Regions from separate parts of the Homo sapiens genome. Here regions 1 and 2 are each linked to region 3. Evidence: fine-mapped expression QTL. A gene starts in region 3. Each other region holds a variant in brackets. All regions are shown on one strand. Distances are from middle to middle.

The links. PIP is the estimated chance that this variant, and not a neighbour inherited with it, causes the effect. A credible set is the group of variants that fine-mapping cannot tell apart.
Region 1: its variant is the best candidate, but not a certain one, in a credible set for the expression of RASGRF2 in cerebellar hemisphere (GTEx, PIP 0.64).
Region 2: its variant is the best candidate, but not a certain one, in a credible set for the expression of RASGRF2 in ovary (GTEx, PIP 0.75).

What each region holds. Positions count from the first base shown.
Region 1 is chr5:81,287,212-81,291,455 of GRCh38, reverse strand. The region is part of intron 1 of CKMT2-AS1 (CKMT2 antisense RNA 1); the gene reads left to right. Among named protein-coding and RNA genes, the nearest start is that of CKMT2-AS1, 12 kb to the left of the region's middle. The variant C/T (reference allele first, on the strand shown) is at 1,952.
Region 2 is chr5:80,924,340-80,928,583 of GRCh38, reverse strand. No RefSeq gene overlaps it. Among named protein-coding and RNA genes, the nearest start is that of RASGRF2, 34 kb to the left of the region's middle. The variant GC/C (reference allele first, on the strand shown) is at 1,886.
Region 3 is chr5:80,958,215-80,962,458 of GRCh38, reverse strand. It overlaps RASGRF2 (Ras protein specific guanine nucleotide releasing factor 2), which reads right to left and starts at 2,096. Exons shown (of 27, transcript NM_006909.3): 1 at 1,433-2,096. The coding sequence starts at 1,720. RASGRF2-AS1 (RASGRF2 antisense RNA 1) reads left to right here and starts at 1,552. Exons shown (of 4, transcript NR_105015.1): 1 at 1,552-1,678. RefSeq lists an enhancer at 1,272-1,993.

The DNA of each region.
Region 1 (4,244 bases), 330 kb before region 3:
GTAGAATTGGTACCAGCTCTTCTTTGTATGTCTGTTAGAATTCTGCTGTGGATCCATCTGGTCTGGGGCTTTTATTGGCTTATAGATTTTTTTTATCACTGGTTTCAATTTCAGAACTTGATACCGGTCTATTCAGGATTTCAGTTTCTCCCTGATCCAATCTTAGGAGATTGTGTGTTTCCAGGAATGTGTCCATTTCCTCTTGATTTTCTAGTTTGTGTGCATAGAGGTGTTCATAATAGTCTCTCAGTATCTTTTGTATTTCTGTGGGATTGGTGGTAATATCACCTTTGTCATTTATTTAGAGACAGGGTCTTACCCTTTTGCCCAGGCTGGAATGCAGTGCCATGATCATTGGCTCACTGAGGTCTTGACCTCCCTAGGCTCAGGTAATCCTCCCACTTCAGCCTCCCAAGTAGCTGGGACTACAGGTGCATGCCACCATGCCCAGCTAACTTTTGTAGAGACAGGGTTTCATCATGTTACCCAGGTGGTCTTGAACTCCTGGGCTCAAGTGATCCACCCACCTTGTCCTCCTAAAGTGCTAGGATTACAGGCATGAGCCACCATGCCTGGCCACCTTTGTCATATCTAACTGTGCTTATTTGGATCATCTCTCTTTTTTCTTTGTTAATCTAGGTAGTGGTCTGTGATCTTTTTTATCCTTCAGAAAACCAATTTTTGGTTTTGTTGATTCTTTGTATGGACTTTTGGGTCTGAATTTTGTTTGGTTCTGCTCTGAAATAACTAAAATTTCTTTTCTTCTGCTAGCTTTGGGGTTCTTATTTTTCTAGTTCCTCTGTCTGATGTTAGGTCATTAATTTGAGATTTTTCTAACATTTCAAGTACAGTTTTTGCTGTATCTTAGATATTTTGGTATGTTGTCTATTTTCATTTCTTTCAAAGAATTTTTTGATTTCTGCCTTAATTTTCTTGTTTACCCAAAAGTCCTCTGGGACTAAGTTGTTTAATTTCCATGTAATTGTGTGGTTTTGAGCGATCTTCTTGGCATTTATTTCTGTTTTTATCCCACTATACTTTGAGAGTATGGTTGGTATGATTTTGATTTTTTTTTTAGTTTATTAAGACTTGGTTTATGCCCAGGATGTGGTTGATCTTGGAGTATGTTCCCATGTGCATATAAGAATGTGTCTTGTGGCAAACTAAAGCAGGAACACAAAACCAAATACTGCATATTCTCACTTATAAGTGAGAGTTGAACAATGAGAACACATGGACACAGGGAGGGGAACAGCACACACTGGGGCCTGTAGGCAGGGTCAGGGGCTAGGGGAGGGAGAGCATCAGGAAAAATAGCTAATGCATGCTGAGCTTAATACTTAGGTGATGGGTTGACAGGTGCAGCAAACCACCATGGCACACATTTACCTAGGTAACAAACCTGCACATCCTGCATATGTACCCCAGAACATAAAATAAGAATGTATATTCTGTGGTTGATAGGTGGAAGTATTTTATAGATGTCTATTAGATCCAGTTGGTCAAATGTCAAATGTCAGTTTAGAGTTTCTTTGTTAGTTTTCTACCTTGATGATCTTTCTAATGTTGTCAGTGTGGTGTTGGAGTCTTCCACTATTACTGGGTGGCTGTCTTAAGTCTTTTTGTAGATGTAGAAGTACTTGTTTTATGAATCTTGTTGCCCCAGTGTTGTGTGCATATATATATTTAGGATAGTTACATCTTCTTGTTGAATTGAACCCTTTATCATTATATAATGCCCTTCTTTGTCCTTTTTTTTTTTTTTGCTGTTATTGGTTTAGTCTGTTTTAGCTGATATAAAAATAGCGACCCCTGCTCTTTTGTTTTCCATTGCATGATAGATCTTTTTCCAACCTTTTACTGAGTCTGTGGGTGTCCTTATGTGTGAGATTGGTCTCTTGAAGACAGCAGATGGATAGGTCTTGCTTTTCTAATCCAACTTGCCACTCTG[C/T]GCCTTTTAAGTGGGGGCATTTAGATCATTTACATTCAAGATTAATATTGATATGTGAGGTTTTGTGGATCCAGAATTTTAAATGTCTGTTTCCTTCCCTGTGCTGAGAGATATGGCCATGTTATCTTCCTGAGATTGTCTAATATTTCTATTACTTGCTGGGCTAATAATAAAGTACACATTGATACCTGACAAATATTCATCTTTCCTTGCCAACTTTATATATTGCAGAATGTTATAGTAGCCCTATTTGAAGATGGTTGGACTTTCCATCCCTGTCATGGAATGGGGAATATATTCCTAGAAAAGAGTTTTTTTTTTTTTAATTGGGGCCTTATTGGCTTAGAAAAGCACTAACAACTTAAAAGAGGGAAAAAACAACATCTCAGCAGTATAATGAGAAAATTTGGGATCAGAGAAAGATGTTTTGTTTCTATTTTAAGAAATAACAGGATGGCAAAAGACAGATACAGATAAGTTGATCTCTTTTTTTTTTTTTTTTTTTTTTTTGAGACAGAGTCTCCCTCAGTCGCCCAGGCTGGAAAGCAGTGGCTCGATCTCTGCTCACTGCAAGCTCCGCCTCCTGGGTTCACGCCATTCCCCTGCCTCAGCCTCCGGAGTAGCTGGGACTACGGGCGCCCGCCACCACGCCCAGCTAATTTTTTTTGTATTTTTTTTGTAGAGACGGGGTTTCACCATGTTAGCCAGGATGGTCGCAATCTCCTGACCTCGTGATCCGCCCTCCTCGGCCTCCAATAGGCCATTTAAGTGAATATCGAAGCGATGTGCCAGAGAGTGTGTTACTTAAAAAACATCTTAAGGCTGGGCGCGGTGGCTCACGCTTGTAATCCCAGCAGTTTGGGAGGCTGAGGTGGGCGGATCACTTGAGGTTAGGAGTTTGAGACCAGCCTGGCCAACATGGTGAAACCCCGTCTCTACCAAAAATACAAAAATTAGCCAGGCGTGGTGGCAGGCCCTTGTAATCCCAGCTACTCGGGAGGCTGAGGCAAGAGAACTGCTTGAACATGGGAGGCAGAGGTTGCAGTGAGCTGAGATCGTGCCACTGCACTCCAGCCTGGGCGACAGAGCGAGACTCCATCTTAAAAAAAAAAAAAACTTGAATAATTAAATTTTTTGCCTGTCTACCACAAAGAGATGTGACTGCACTGTTAACCACATTGTTGCCAAATGAGTAAAATGTGTAAAAGATTTTAATACCAGTCCTCTTTTATTCATTAAAGTCTTCTTATGGCTCGTTAATTTTAATGGTATAATCTAGTTCTGATTGAAGTGCACCTGAATGCAGTTAGTGCCTCATCAGTCCTGATGAGTTCCAAGTAATTCAGGCCCTGTCTGCAGTGTTCACAAATTGTGTCTATATTTACATCTGTTTCATGCATGTTTGCACGTGTCTTCAGCAGTACAGTTTTTACAAGAGCCCAGTGTCTTCCTTTTTGGCCTCATCTACATTATTTAAAAGAGTTTTCTATTTTCATAATTGCTTTTATGCCAAAAATAAGTTTTATGCAAACAAAGATTTTGTGATGATGCCAAAATTTGGCATTCAGGTTGAAAATAGATACAGCTTATGAGTCAAATACACTTTTGGAGAATAGGGAATCTGATGTATATAGTAAAAAGTAAATGATAATATCAGTTCATTGGATTTCCACTATAACTCGTAAGTTTCATGAAGCTATTAAAAAACTCTTCTTAAATCCTGCTTTTACAGTTTCATAATTACATACCTCAAACTAGGTTTACTCATTTTCAGATATAGATTATGTTTGCAGAATGAATACATGATTAATTATGGTATACCTCTTTAATCCTTCATTTCTGGTGTGGGTGTTTTCACAGCACTCAGATAAGTGATTGGTTGAACATGGTCAAACAGTCTAACCCCTAGGGTGAATAGAGCTTTCTCTGATGGTGCTGAAGGTTTATTCATCAGTTACGATCTCGCTCTTTTTTTTTTTTTTTTAACATGAAGTTTCACTCTTGTTGTCCAGGCTGGAGTGCAGTGGTGCGATCTCGGCTCACTGCAACCTCTGCCTCCTGGGTTCAAGTGATTCTCATGCCTCAGCCTCCCGAGTAGCTGGGATTACAAGCATCTGCCACCACACCCGGATAATTTCTTGTATTTTTAGTAGAGATGAGGTTTCACCATGTTGGCCATGCTCATCTCAAACTCCTGACCTCAGGTTGATCCACCTGCCTCGGCCTCCCAAAGTGCTAGGATTACAGGCATGAGCCACCGCTCCTGGCCCAGTAATGATCTCTTAATTCCCCT
Region 2 (4,244 bases), 34 kb after region 3:
AGGCCTGGGTGGATTCCTGGTTTTGTCATTTTCCCAGGAATCTCTTGAGTTTTTAATACCTTGGTTTCTTCACCCTTAAAATGTAGAGTACATACTTTGCTTCTCCATAGACTCAGTTGTGAGGATCAGATGTGTGTGCAGAGGAGCACTCTTTGTATACCTAACACTCCATTTTTTTCCACCCCAGGCTCCTCATCATATGTCCCAGGATAGGATTCTGGGGCTGCCTCCTGGCTGTAAGGCTGAGTCATAAAGATGGTACCTGGGGTCAGCTTCCGCTTTCTCCTCTGCAGCAGAAGCCTGAATGTAGTTGGAGCTTGAGAGAGTCAGCCAAGCATAGATTAGACTAATAGCTAGCATGTATTAAGCCCTCCCTATGCACCAGACATTCTTCTGAGCACTCTCACACAAGAACCCTGGAGGTAGTTGCCATGATTGTCACTCTTTATATCAGAGGATAAAACTGAAGCATAGCCAGAAAGAGGAGGAGCCAAACGTGAACCCTGGCAGCCTGGGAGGAGCCCACAGTCTCAGCCACCCCATCGTAACTGCCTTTCCAGGTGGAGGAACAGGAGGTAGACAAGCTGTAACACAGCCTCCCTGGATCTGCTCTTGTCCTTCTCAGTCACACAAGCCAATAGATCCCCACTTTTGAAAGCAAGTTGTTATCCACAGGTCAGCTCTCAGGATTACAGAAGGTCAGAACGGTAAGGAGGGTGCGGAATGTGTGCTCCATCTTCTCAGGAGGATGAGGAAACAGGACCCTGACTTATACAAAGGCACGTATTCCTGCCATCTCTGCAGCCTCAGCCCCACTTCTGCCTCCCACAATGCTTCTGCACATCCTTACCTAACACATCTGGCCATTCCTGCTCTCATGCCATTGCTCAGCTCCATTTGAATTCTGCCACGTGTCCAATCCCATGTCTTCCGTGAAACCTTTGCTCATTCCATCAGCCCACAGCTTTCTCTCTTTCCTCTGGGTCACCATAGCAGGTTCTATACCAGTCAACTCTATTCGGAGGCTGCCTACTGGAATCTTTAATGTTGATATTTAACTGTGAACTCTGTTTAACTCATGTGCCTCATCCTTGATGCCTATCTTGAATAAGTTCCTTAAGGGTGGGACATTCTGTTTCACTTCCTTTTATGATTCTCAAAGCAGCTAGCACCAGCCCTTTACATACAATTAATGTGTGTGTGTGTGTGGGTGGGTGGGGTGGGGGTGGGAGTTGACCCTTACTCTGTTGTTATTCATCTTTCTCTCACATGTACTGCCTATCAGCTCGGTCTAAGAAAGTCAATAGTCTCCTTCCCTTATTCACCTTCTGGCAGAGTAGCTCCAACACCTTTCCCAAGCCTGATCCAACCCTGTGTCTGGTGATACTCAAGCCTCAGTCAGGAGTGGAAAAAAACCCAGGCACTGGACAACTCATAACAGATAAGCTGCTGTTTGGGAACTTGATATTCCCTCTATGCAAACTGGACCAATGCACAACCTAGATATGTCACTGTAAATCTCTGTTGAATAAACAGCTCCAATATCATCAAAGTCACATCTTTACTTCTTTTCTTTATAACACAGTTGTCATGAACATCATGAGAAAGATGTAGAGGAAAACTGAAGGCTCTGACCATTTGGAAGCATTAAACATAGGAAAAGGTAGTGACCAGAATCCAAAATGTCAAATGAAATTCGGTATCAAGCCATATAAGTAACTGAACAAAATATTTGGTCTTTCTCAGTCAGAAAAAAAAAAAAGCTCCTTTTTTTTCCATCTACTTGTTAGGTGCTCTATTGAGTGCTTTGAACCTCATAACAAAGTAACATTTGTTCTGTTTTACAGAGTAGGAAACTGACACCCATTGAGGCTGGGTGACCAAT[GC/C]AGGATAATACAAATGGGGAGAGAAAGAGGTCATAAGCACATTTAGCAGAGACTGAAAACACTATCTGACACCCAATTTTTAAAATAACAAAAACTAGATCAGATCATCAGGAGTATGTGGATGTTTACTCTGTTGTGCCTTATATGAACTTGTCTTAATGCAAATCTCAGCAAAGATTCTTTCATCATAAAAAGCCAATAGACCCCATTCTAAAATGGAAATATCTAATTATAAAAGTACTAATTATAAAAGTAGATTTTCAGTATTTTTCCCACAATTAAAAACACCAAAAAGTAGATGTTCATTGTAAAAAAAAAAAACCACAAAAATAGTACCATAAATAAAATAGAATGAAAATCACAAGTAATCTACCTAGGAATAATGGGTTAATTATGAAGGGTTTATAAAAATCTAAATTCCTCTGCACTGTGGTAGTTCTACAGTGATCTTTCAGAAATGGTAACTGTGAATGACAGGCCAGTTTGCCAATATCGTTTTATTTTAGTTTCATTGATTTTTGAGGAAGAGGGATTAAGGTCAAAGTATTGGCAAATTCACATGAATCTATTGCAATCATCAGTCTAAACTGCTTTGTGCAACTAAACTGACAGCTTCTCCTTTTGTACCCAGGAAACTCAGTGTTCAAAATAATATCATTGTGTTGATCAGATAATCAAAAGAAATGGGACACTTCAGGGCATGGAGGATGACTATAAATGTTAGTGCAAGGTGGAAAATGCTGTCTTTCTAAACCCAGTGAAACTGTCCTAGTCTCCAGATAAAGACAGATTTTATTTCTTATATAGAGAGCAGATTCCTGCTGAATGTTGAGGGTCTGAGAAGCAAATAAAAGGTCAAGCATACATGCTTTCTATTTATGCTACTGGCTGACTGCATCTATAATCCAAACCAATGTACAATAGGGGGGATGCATTTGAAGACTCCCAGTGGATGCTTGAAACTGCAGATAGTACTAAATCCTATATATACTGTTTTTTCCTATTCATGCATACTTATGATAAATTTTAATTTGTAAATTAGGCACAGTAAGAAATTAACAACAACAATAATAAAATAGAGCAATTATAACAATATCCTGTAATAAAGGTTATATCGATGTAGTCTCTCTCTCTCTCTCTCTCTCTCTCTCTCTCTCTCTCAAAATAGCTTATTGTACTGTACTGCCAGTAACTAAAACCATGGAAAGTGAAACAGCAGATAAGAGGGGATGACTGTATTACTTACATATTTTCAAAGGCAGTTTTTACCTCTCATAACATACTATTCTAAGGAATTGCGACAAAACATGAATTTAGAGCCAATGTTTACAATTTAAAAGAATATAATCTTCTAAGCACTGAAAAAAAGACATACACCAGAATTATTACAGAAATTGAAAGAGGCTTTACAATTTTTGAAAAAAGACATACATCAGAATTATTAAAGAAATGGAAAGAGGCCTCACAGTTATTTTGCCTGGATTAAGAAGGCTAAGAGGTGACAAAAACTGCCTTTGAGATATAAAAGGTTATTATGAGGAATTGTGGTGAACCTACTTATTTACCAATTGCAAACCATTGTTATTTAAATGCCATTTATAATGTCTCTAAACTTGAATGTGTAACTGAAAAAGGAATATAACCCCATTAAGTCCATAATAGATGTATTTGGTCCAATGGTTCATATCAAAAAGATTGAGTGTATTTTAGCTTAAGGAGTCTACCATGAATCACCTCCATAGCATAAACTATCAGGTATGGTCTGAGGTGCCCACCATAAATAACAAAAACATTCTTGTCCCCTGGGAAATTCCAAGGGTTTCAATGCTACCTCCCAGGAGCTAGAGACAAAAGCCAGCCAAATTCTTTATCACACAAAATTATATATCAGATAAGGGTCTAGTGTCCAGAATGTATAAAGAACACTTAAACCGAACAAAAAAAGACCATCCAATTAAAAAGTGAGCAAGGGATTTGAATAGACATTTTTCAAAAGAAGTTATACAAATGGCCAATAAGCACAAGAAAAGATACTCAGCATCGTTTGTTATTAGGAAATTCAAATCAAACCTACAATGAGATACTACTTCACACCATTATGATGATTATAATAATTTTTTAAAAAAAACAGAAAATAAGTGTACGCAAGGATGTGGATTGGAACCCTCAAGCAATGCTGGTAGAAATATAAAATGATGCAGTCACTTCTTTAGTGAAGTGTCTGTTCTGGTTTTTACCTAAATTTTCTTTTATGGATCATGGTTTGATGCCATATCTAAAGTCTCTTGGCTCAACCCAAGAGAACTTTCTCCTGTATTTTCTTCTAATAATTGTATAATGTTTTATATTTAGGCCTAC
Region 3 (4,244 bases):
CCTTGGAACACATACCTTAAAAAAAATCCCACCAATAGAATGTTACTTATATATATTCCTGAAAAAAAATGTTTCCTCAAAACTCTTCTCCCAATTTAAATTCTAAAATGCATGACTTGAAATTTATGTTTATATTTCTAGTATCTATATCTATAAAGTTGGAAATCAGTTTTTCAAATGACTCTGAACAAGCCCTCAGAAACTAAAGAGCATATTTAAACTTTCAGATTTATAAGTGTTATAACAAGTTTAATCACTTAAGTCTGTTAATGATTTATAGTGAAAACAACTCAAACTTCCGGTCGGTCTAGTTTTAACTCCTCTTAATTTTACACATTGTTTTATGAGCCCCAAAGGGTTAGGTAGGCATCTTACGGATCACTCCATTGCTAGCACCTCCCACAGCCTCTGTGGTGTGCGGTAGATGCTGTCTGATCTGAACTCACATGGAAAATTCAGCTGCGAATATTTTTACGCAACAGCAAAAACAATCAGCCTTTTTCATATCAAGGTGGGGATTGAGAAGCTAAATGAGAACATTAGGGGCATAAAATTAGTCTGCTTTAACTTTAATAACCAAACGGTGATTGGAAACATACAAACTTTGTGTTTGCAGGAATGAGGGGCTGGGATCACTAAGACTTAAAGGGTTTTTCTCCCCCACCCCGCGACCATGAGCACACAGCAAAACTAATAAAATTATGACCCAGAATTAAAAGGTCGCATTCATTTTCAAAGCATTCATTTAAAAGTACAGAAGCGTTCTTTAAAAATGCCCACATTTTTAAACATAGCAAGAATGTGGCTACCAAATATTAATCCTGAGGAATATGAATACACATTTACCTTCATAATTACACCCAGCAGGTCAAATGTTAGCAAGGCCAACTGACCGAAATCACAAAGACTGATTGAAAATGACCAACAGAAAGTGTCTGTCCGGCTTGGGAGCCCCGCTTGTTCCCAGCCCAACCAGTGGTCAAACATCTGCAGGCAAAGAAATCTACACGCGCCAGCCGGGTATGGCAGAAATCAAACTTTTCCAAATAAGTTAGTTCCGTCTTGCCAATCTACACCCAACAGGTGTCAATACATGTCACCAGACAAAAATCTGGCGAGCCAGGTCTAGAGAAGCAATAGATGGTTGGCAGAGAAGCTGAAACGACTCGACCTCTACCAGGGTAATGAAAGCAAGTCGGGCCACTATTCTGACTGATCACTTGGCAGTGGGGTGGAGGGGTATGGAGATGGGAGAATCCCTGGATGAAGATCGGAAGGAGCGTGGAGATGTCCCGCCACTGGTGACGCGGGGGGATTTCGGAGCATAGTCCCCGCACTCTTTCACGACCCCCGACCCCTGATCCCCGGATTAGGACGGCAAGGGAGTGCGGCGATCAAGGCTGGGAGACCGCGGAGAGAAGGCGCGCGGTACCTGCTTGTCCAGCGCGTCTCGGACGCCTCCCTGCCCGGCGCCGGCCCTGGGTGGCGCGGGCGTTCGTTCGCAGCTGCAGCCCTCCAGGAGGTACATGCCCGCCGGGCGGCAGCTCTGCTCGCCCTCGAAGTAGAAGAGCACATTCTGGTAGAGGGCGAACCACTTCTCGTGCCAGCGGCTCGCCTCGGCCGTCTTCTTACTCAGGAAGCCGCGCTTGGTGCCCTCCTTGCGCGCCAGAAAGGCCAGGTACAGGGCGTGCCCCTCGTTGTAGCGCACGCTCTTCTGCATGGTGCGGGTGCGGAGGGCTCACGGGTGGCCGCCGGTCTCACCCCTGCCTCGCGGCCATGGCCCAGCTGGCTCCCTCGAGGGCGCGACCGCTCAGGTCCCGGCCGGCGAAGGGCGCCCCCTTTCCCCACGCCGCGCGCAGGGCACCCCGCCCGCTTTCGGGAGGCCGCGGCGCGCGGTGGCAGGGGCGCGGGCTGGGGCCGAGGCACGCTCTCCGCCCTAACCACCACCCTCCCGGCCGAGCCCCCGGAGCCCCCCAAGCCCCCAACGCCCGCGTGGAGCGCGGCCCCGCGAGGGCGCCCGAGCCGGCCGCCGCTTCGCCCAAAGTTGCGGGAGCCGAGCCCCCGCGGCGGGCTGGGGCGGCAGCCGGGGAAGGACTGTCCTCGGGCAACGCGCTCCGGGAGACAGAAGGTAAAACGTCACGTGGGAGCTCAGCTGTAATCGGCTTGGAGACCGATTTAAAGGGCAAAGTCGGCGCGGCGCCGGCGGTGGCGCAGCCCGCTTGCCCCGGCTCGCGTCCCTCCCTCGCCCGCCCCGGCCCGGGCCGCTGCCTCTGCTCGGGCGCCCGCCGGGATGGGGCGGATCAGGGAGGTGGAGGCGCCCGGCCGCACCACACACCCGCTCACACGCGCTCGCACACTCGCGCACAACGCGCGCACACACACACGCACACCCACACACACGCAGACCAGTACATTCACCCAGATCCACAATGCACACACTCAGACGCACAAAAATACACTCACAAATGCACACAAACACAATGCGCGCACATATGCACAAAAACACACGCGCACACACTCATGACACACAAATACACATTCTCACAACGCTCACACTCAACACACAGTCACAACGCACAAATGCATATAGACAAATACACCCACAATGTGCGTTCCCGCGCACAAAAATAAAACCCACATTCAGATACACACTTAAGGAGCTACACACATGCACGCAGTGATATGCTCACTTACACACACATTCACACACAACCCACACATTCACTCAAACCCACATTCAAACATACATTCATACACACATTACACTCATACAGTCACACAAACAGCACACATATACTCACACGTTCACAATCATACAGACTCATAAGCAGATAATCAAACACACACACAGATGAACACACATGTACATTCACAAATTCATCCAAAAATACACACAAAGCACTCACACACGTATTCGCACGAATCCACACACTTTCACAAACCCACTCACACATACACACACACTCACATGCCACATCCATAAGTACGTTCCCATGGCAGTAGGTAGAGTCACAGAGTGGCTTTGCATAGCCCGCATCCTTGGCTTTTCTGCTTGTACCTGCATTGTAGTATTTAAAACTGCCGGTAAAGGTTAAGGAGAGTGGCCCAAGTGTTCCCGGAAAGGCATCAGATGCCGAAGTTCTTTCGGAATGCCTGTTATTTCACAGTGGTAAGATGCTAAATTTTAAGTGCCGAGTTTTCAACCTGGAAAAAAATACCCAAATAAGGGACACTTTGCTGCCCAGGGCAGAATCCAACCCCAAAGGCCAGCTGTCACAGGCTCATCGTTTGTAGGACTGGATTCATTTGATTAACAAATCTGACAGGTACAACCAGAAAACCAAGAGCCACCCCCCCGCCCCAACCCCATGCTGTAAAAATGTAAGTGGAAAAGAAATAATGTAGCCAGCAGCTGTGAGAGAAAGCCAGTGAAACCCCCGGGGAGGGCCTATATTTGATTCTGCTATACACATTTTTTATTTTCCCCAGTCATTTATCACTAAAACGGAGTGCCATCATAAAATGTTTATTGTTAAAAGTAAATAATAATGCTTTTCTGGGTGATGAGTCTACGACAATACACCTGTCTTGTACTGCCAGTTGTGTGTTCATGAATTGGTAGCCCCAGGGGTTCTGCCTGTTTCATAAGTGCTGTTTCTGCAGAATATTTTAACTCTGCCTCACTGAGCAGCTGAGTGGGGTTTTTTTTTCCTTTTACCTTTTTAAAAAATTTTCACTTTTAACAAGTATATAGTAGGGAAATTGCCATTTTGAAATTACAGCGTGAGAACAGTGGTCATTTCTCTTTACGTTTTTAAAAATATCTAAAGGACAGTGCTGTGCTAAATTGGGTTTAACCCAGCTGGAAGTTTGCATTGTTCTTCAGAGAAGACACAAGTACAGAGACAGTAAGTAAATGCAGGCAACATTTTGGAGCCAGATTCTAGATGCAGAGGAGCTGGTGATTGCCTCAGGAGGCCTTTTATTTCTTTCTCTGTGGTCCAATCCCAGCTGTGAGAACCGTAAGTGAGTAGACACCTGTGTGGTTGATAAGCTCCATTTTTTTAGTAGAAACCAGTAAGAGTGTGAAATCAGCACAAAAACTATTTTGCCATGAGTAGTCAAACCTTCTAACGCACTTGAGTTTTTTCAGATGTGAAAGATTCTCTTCTTCAATAAGCAATGTCTCAGTTACCATCTCTGTCTCCTTAAATGTGCTTTTCATTTGAACCACATGAAATATT